2 linked regions of the Homo sapiens genome follow. The protein of the gene in region 2 purifies or fractionates together with the protein of the main gene of each other region. This does not show direct contact. Each region holds a gene or a part of one and is shown on either strand. Other genes may lie near its edges.

The links.
Region 1: the proteins of SHOX (region 2) and PKNOX1 purify together in Homo sapiens (affinity purification with mass spectrometry; one large-scale study listed by BioGRID and IntAct). This does not show direct contact.

What each region holds. Positions count from the first base shown.
Region 1 is NC_000021.9:43,026,516-43,030,328, reverse strand, and holds part of PKNOX1 (homeobox protein PKNOX1), read right to left. Parts: intron 1,628-3,813; coding exon 1,455-1,627; intron 440-1,454; coding exon 228-439; 3' UTR 1-227. UniProt on the Homo sapiens protein: Activates transcription in the presence of PBX1A and HOXA1.
Region 2 is NC_000023.11:644,203-648,015, reverse strand, and holds part of SHOX (short stature homeobox protein), read right to left. Parts: intron 3,626-3,813; coding exon 3,380-3,625; 3' UTR 1-3,379. UniProt on the Homo sapiens protein: Controls fundamental aspects of growth and development.

The sequences.
Region 1 (3,813 bases), on a different chromosome or scaffold from region 2:
GAATTTCTTTAAAAATCCACACACACGCACACACGCACACACACACACACACACACACACACACACACTTGAAAGAAGTCGCTGCACCGGCAAAGACGCGCTTTAAGCTTACTATGAAATACAAAAGTGCACTCTTCTATATCTACATATAAAACATATTAGAAATAAAACTGTGTAAAATGTTTGCTGTGCAAACTCCAAAAAGTCAGGTGCGTCTGCTCCTGCCCCTACTGCAGGGAGTCACTGTTCTCCAAGACCAGCCCGCTGATGTGGGCAGGGGCCAGGGCACCCGCATCCTCCTCTGTGCTGTCCACAGACTCGTCCTCGCTCTGCCCTGCCATCATGACCTGCTGCACCGCCAGGGTGGCCCCGTCCGAGGACAGAGACTGAAGGCTGTCCACGTTCATGTTCACGGGCGTGGTGATGGTGACAACAGCTCCTGCGGCAGGATGAAGGTGTGTCATTATTTAAATTAGTACTCACAGAAAAACACTTTATTACTCAATTGGGTGCTGTTTGCTCGTTTGACCTAAAGTTAAAATAAAACACCTATATATGTTTAGGGAATGTTCAACAGGGATTTAAGAAACTGTTTCTGGGCCGGGCGCGGTAGCTCATGCCTGTAATCCCAGCACTTTGGGAGGCTGAGGCAGGCGGATAACGAGGTCAGGAGATCAAGACCATCCTGGTGAACACGGTGAAACCCCGTCTCTACTAAAAATACAAAAAATTAGCCGGGCGTGGTGGCAGGCACCTGTAGCTACTCCGAGCTACTCGGGAGGCTGAGGCAGGAGAATGGCGGGAACCTGGTAGGCAGAGGTTTCAGTGAGCCGAGATTGCGCCATTGCACTCCAGCCTGGGCAACAGAGTGAGACTCTGTCTCAAAAAAAAAAAAAAAAAAAAACAAAGCAAACAAATAAAAAAAAATAAAAACACATGCACACAAAACCATCCAAAATATGAAGACCTCATGCGAACAGAAAGATGCCTATAAAACACATCAGAATGGCTGCCTACGTCAGGGGATGGAGAGCAGAGGCCACAGGGAACAAGCAAAAACAAGAGAAGGGCATGGGGGATGAAGAGAAAGAAGCCACGTGGTGAGAACGGGGTAAGTCCCTCCTCCACACCCGGCGTCGGAGGGAAAAGGAGAGCAAACACAGAAGCAAAGGAGAAGATCCATGGGCATGACTGTGTCTTTGAGACAGAATTAATGATTTCATATCTCTATCACGTGTTTTACATTCTCTACTACTGGTGCTCCTAACTCTTACTGAGAGCTCCCGTGCACGCAGAATGCAGCTTCCTCATGTTTTAGTTGCAGAGAAAGAGAACCACGCACTCTCGTTCACCACATTACCTGAGGCTCACAGCTAACAGGCCTGATCCAGGCCTCTTGTTCATAATCCCCACCCCATGGTCCACCATGTCTGGCCTTGGCCGGCCACCTGTACCTTCCGACATGGTGAGCTCGCTCGGCGGTGGCTGTGCGACTCCTGATGCAATAGAATCAGGCCAAAACCTCTGAACTGGCCGGTTCTGAGCAGTTTTTTTCTTTGTTTTGGGGGTCTCTGAACAACTTGAATCCAACATTGGCTGAAGAATTCGTCTTCTGGCATTGATGAACCTGGAGTCAACAAAGAGAAGCTTCCATGAAAACAGCCTTCGTAAAGACCCTATACAGGATTAACAAATCCTTCTAACAAACACGCTGCTCTACGAAGCACGCTACAAAGAATGACTCAAGTTCTCCACTATAGTAACTACTTAAGAGGACTCAACAGCTCTTCTGAATTCTCTAAATGCCCAGAAACACAGAGCCTGTTGTTTTAAAAATCATGCAAATAAGCACCAACTCGTCCATGGCATTTTTTTTTTTGTCTCAACTCCTTTAGGGCATGTTTGTGAACTAGATACTCATAACGACATAGATGATACTGTTGAATTTGTGAATCTGACACTGTTTTCCCTAAGGAAGAAAAATGTTAAAGAAGCAAGACTTTCTGTAGTGCCATCATGCCTGAGACGATCGGGCAGTCTGCACTCGTCTGGACGTCACCAGATCACCAACGGGGCCGAGCCTCTGGGTGGCAACGTGTCTGAGCCATCAGAGAATGGGACTGCCACCTCCTCTTGTTTCACCACAAAGCACGATCTAAGGCAAGAGCTGCATCTTTTCAAAAACCATTCCCAATGATGAGCTGTTTCTTAGATGACTGGAGGCGTAAGTCCTCCAGTGGTCCTAGACATGTGGCCAGCACAGCACGTAGGCACCAGCAGTGATGAAATCCCCGACAGACGCTGGCGACTCTGTCAGACCAGGCACTCACGCCTGTGATAAGACTCCACAGAGAACGAGAGCAGCAACAATCACAGGCTGGCAGGGCAGGCTGGACATTGTTTCTGTATTTTTGAGATGGAGTCTCGCCCTGTCGCACAGGCTGGAGTGCAGTGGCACGATCTCAGCTCACCGCAACCTCCGCCTCCTGGGTTTAAGCGATTCTGCTGCCTCAGCCTCCTGAGTAGGTGGGACTATAGGCGCCCACCACCTCGCCCAGCTCATTTTTGTATTTTTAGTAAACGGGGTTACACCATGTTGGCCAAGATGGTCTCGATCTCTTCACCTTGTGATCTGCCTGCCTTGGTCTCCGAAAGTGCTGGGATTACAGATGTGAGCCACTGCACCTGGCCCAACAGTCACAGGTTGGCAAGGCAGGCTGGACATTGTTTCATATCAAATGAGTATGATAGCAATCTCAAAATACATTAAGATTAAAGGCTGCTGTCTTCAGTTCCCATTCTTATGCTATGAGCTGTTGCCTTTAAATGTGAGAAAGTGCAAGGAGACTCAAATCCCTAGGCCAGCTTTTCCTCCTGCAGTGACTAGAGGACAAAGATAGCAAACCAGACATGCGTTCTGCTGCACCCACCACCCTATGCCACTGACTGGGCCACTTTGCTACAAAAAGAGCTGAAATGGAAAGAAACGGAAAGAAAAACAACATCTGTCCCGTGAAAGCGCCTATCAAACCAGAACCCGTCCAGATTCATGCATTACCCCAACCTAACGCAAAAGCAGCAATACCAACCATGCTTAAGGCCTCGTTTCTGTCTTCTTTTTTCAGTAACATGAATGATAAAGTAGTTGACCTCTTGCTAGAGTCACACATTGCTCATCTATTAAAAGCCAGACTTCTCTATCTGGATAGCTGAGTAGCCATGTTCACGATATCAGGGAAACAAAAGCATTACTTTTAGACTCAGATTCTACTCTGGTTTGTCACTGTGACAACTTCTTTCTTTTTTTAATGCCCCCCTCTGCAAAACAACAACACTAGAACTGGATCAGCTCTAAGGTTGCTTAATTTTAAAAGTCCAAGATTTAAAAATATCTACAATTATATTAGCACACAGTCTAATAATAATGAAGCAGATCGGATCCCGCCATGCTTCATTTAGAGGAACCTGGTGATCCCTGCAGCACAAGCTCCATGGCCACCCACAACCCCAGCGAGACCTGGGAGGGAAGGCCCCACTGCTACTGTAATGTGTTGGTTGTTTTCTTTTTTTTTGAGACTGAGTCTCACCCTGTCGCCCAGGCTGGAGTGCAATGGTGCGATCTGGGCTCACTGCAACCTCCACCTCCCGAGTTCAAGCCATTCTACTGCCTTAGCCTCCTCAGTAGCTGGGATTACAGGTGTGCACCACCACACGCAGCTAATTTTTCTATTTTTAGTAGAGACAGGATTTCACCATGTTGGTCAGGCTGGTATTGAACTCCTGACCTCGTGATCTGCCCACCTCGGCCTCCCA
Region 2 (3,813 bases):
CCGAAACCCTGTCTCTACTAAAAATACCAGAAAGTTACCCAGGCCTGGTGGCAGGTGCCTGTAATCCCAGCTACTCGGGAGGCCGAAACCCTGTCTCTACTAAAAATACCAGAAAGTTACCCAGGCCTGGTGGCAGGTGCCTGTAATCCCAGCTACTCGGGAGGCTGAAACCCTGTCTGTACTAAAAATACCAGAAAGTTACCCAGGCCTGGTGGCAGGTGCCTGTAATCCCAGCTACTCGGGAGGCCGAAACCCTGTCTCTACTAAAAATACCAGAAAGTTACCCAGGCCTGGTGGCAGGTGCCTGTAATCCCAGCTACTCGGGAGGCTGAAACCCTGTCTCTACTAAAAATACCAGAAAGTTACCCAGGCCTGGTGGCAGGTGCCTGTAATCCCAGCTACTCGGGAGGCCGAAACCCTGTCTCTACTAAAAATACCAGAAAGTTACCCAGGCCTGGTGGCAGGTGCCTGTAATCCCAGCTACTCGGGAGGCCGAAACCCTGTCTCTACTAAAAATACCAGAAAGTTACCCAGGCCTGGTGGCAGGTGCCTGTAATCCCAGCTACTCGGGAGGCTGAAACCCTGTCTCTACTAAAAATACCAGAAAGTTACCCAGGCCTGGTGGCAGGTGCCTGTAATCCCAGCTACTCGGGAGGCTGAAACCCTGTCTCTACTAAAAATACCAGAAAGTTACCCAGGCCTGGTGGCAGGTGCCTGTAATCCCAGCTACTCGGGAGGCTGAAACCCTGTCTCTACTAAAAATACCAGAAAGTTACCCAGGCCTGGTGGCAGGTGCCTGTAATCCCAGCTACTCGGGAGGCTGAGGCAGGAGAATGGCTTGAACCCGGGAGGCGGAGGTTGCGGTGAGCCGAGATTGTGCCACTGCACTCCAGCCTGGGGGACAAGATTGAAATTCCGTCTCTAAAGAGAAACGTTCAGATTCTACAGGGACCAGGTAGATGTCTTTCTACTCACGTGGAGTGAGCTTTTTCTTGGGAGGAAATGATGACACACTGTTATGTTTCGATTTTTCAAAATTACTCAGCCTTTTTGGTTAAAAAAAAAAAATCTAGGGCTGTACATATCTTACCAACCACTTTTCCAAAGGGTTACATACTCTGATGAATGAACCTACTTCCCAAAGATTCAAAATGCAATTCTTCTTTTCGATAAAAATTTCAGCTTAACTATTAAAGCCTCTCTCTCTCTTTTTTTTTTTTAATTTCCAGCTTTTAAGAAAAATGGATGAATGAGGCAAACTCTCTAATACCGTTAATGTCTGGGATTCTTTCTCTCTCTCTCCGTCATTTTACAGCGGTTGTAACATTTTGACATAAAAAATGTTGAAGGGGACTTTTGGTTTGTATAAAGAATATCAGAAGATACAAATGAGACGGGTCCAAATGGATCTACAGTTCAGCTCAGTGACAAGATAGAAAGTGTTATGCGGAAGAAAAAAAGAAGTTGTTTTTTTTTTTCTTTTATCCCCACCTCAGGGAGAAGTATCTAAATCAGAAGTTAGGAAAGAAAACCACCAAGCTTGAATCCAGAAAGATGCAAATGTGTTATGGAAATAAGAGAGTTGACCAGTGGATGTTAGTAAATGTTGGGAGAAGATAGTTTCTCTCTGGGCAGGCTGTGGTAACTAATGCCAATCATGCAGATGGATCTTCTCGGAGGTCACCAAACCCCTTGCTGTGTTCCCAGAAAACCAATCAGAACATGGAACGTGGATCTCCCGAAATCTGGGGGCAGAACCCTTGAATGTTTTTGGTTAGGTCATTTCAAGCAACTGTCCAGCCCATGCCAGCTGTGACGACAAGTTGCTATCTGCTGTTTATAAAACTGGGGGCACGTTGGGAGGCCGAGGCGGGCAGATCACCTGAGGTCAGGAGTTCGAGACGAGCCTGGCCAACACGGTGAAACCCCGTCTCTACTATAAATACAAAAAATTAGCCGGGGGTGGTGGCAGGTGCCTGTAGTCCCAGCTACTCGGGAGGCTGAGGCAGGAGCATCGCTTGAACCCGGGAGGCGGAGGTGGCAGTGAGCTGACATTGCGCCACTGCACTCCAGCCTGGGCGACAAAGCAAGTCTCTGTCTCAAAAATAAAAAACAAAGAAATAAAAGAACTGGGGGAACGCAGAAGATGGAGTAGGGGAGAAAGAAAAGCTGGAACCACCTACATCTGCAAAAACTTGAAAACTCTCTGGATCTCTCCCTGGCTTTTACGCTTCCCAACCAGAAACAGCTCAGGTACCAAACTGATATCTTGGCACCACCGTGCCCTCTTTTATCCCCTTCAGAAACACAACCACACTCCCAGCGCGCCCAGGGCCATCTCTACACCCGTGATTTTTGCAAAGGGCCCTCAGTGGCCAGGCGGCCAGCGCTGGGAGAAGAGGTAACGCCTTTTCCACGTTGGACGCTGACGGGGTCAAGAGTGCACGGCTATTTTTTTTTTAATCTATAATATTTATAATATTGCACTTCACTCCATGTCAGTAAAGTTAATGCTGCATATCAGTATGACACCTTGCAACCACGCGTCCGTCTCTTATGCAAGTCTTTTGCGTCTGAATCCTGTAACACAGCAAAAAAAAAAAAAAAAAAAAAAAAAAAAAAAAATACCAATCCAAAACAAAACCAGACCCAATTTGGGAATCAAACACTGGAAAAGTTATAAAGTCGGTCCTCATTCAGGTCCCCGGAACGTGGGAGTCCCAACGTGGGAGGTTCGGGTCTCCCTCCCCTCCCTTTCCAAAGCCCGCGGTTCACGTCCTCAGCCTCAGCCAGAGAACTATTTCCTTATTGCTGCCTGGGAGGCTCCGGGGGAGCGGTGGAGGAGAGCCCGGCCCCTGCCTCCTGGGATTCCGAAGTCCACATTCAAATCCACACCCGTTCCGCAGCCTCTCGGGATGAAGGAAGGAGCATGGTAGTAAAGAAAATCGTTGGCAACGAAGAAATGGCATTTTCATCGGAGACCAGCTCCGGGATCTTTGCAGTTTCAATAGACTCTAAGGATCTTCCAAACGTGTGTAGTTAACCGCATGCATAGGGTATAGCAGAGGAAGACGCAGCCAGGCGGGGGTTTACCCTTCTCCAGGGTCCCAGGACGCACGGGCAGCCTTGGAGAGGCCCGGGCTGGACGCACGGCCGCTCACCCGCTCCGCCTTCTGCACCATCTCCGCGAGGGTCTGGCTGGGTCGTGCGTGGACGGTCCCGGGAGCCTCCCTCCTCAGGCCTCTTGCAGGAGCTCCCGGGGTGCCCGGAGCACGGTGGCCGCGGAAGGAGCTCCAGGCGGGGTTGAGTGCAGGACGCGCGGTGCAGGCGGGGTGCGCGGAGCCCGGGAGTCCGGGCGCGCGGGGGGCTGCGCGGCGGGTCAGAGCCCCAGGGCCTCCGCGTGCTTCCGCGCCTTGAGCCGCAGGTCGGCGATGCTGGAATTCTTGCTGTTGCTTTTGGCGGCGGCGGCGACCACGGCGGCGGCCGAGGCGGACTCGGCCAGCGACGCGATGGGCAGCCCGAAGGGCGGCGGGGGGAACATCAGGTAGGGCGCGTGCGCCGCCAGGTGCGGGTGCAGGTGCGGGTGCGCGTGGGCCACGCCTTCCAGCTGCAGCTGAGCCTGGACCTGCGGGAGCGGACCCGGCGGGGTGAGGGCGCAGGATGGGGACTGGGGGGCCTGCTCCGCCCCGCGCCCCCGGAAACCTCCAACGTGCCTCTTCTCCCCTAGGGAGCGTCGCCCCTTCTCCAGCCGTGGAGACCACCCCACACCCGCCTTTCCTCCTTCCCCCTGGCCCAGAATTGGCGCTGCCACTG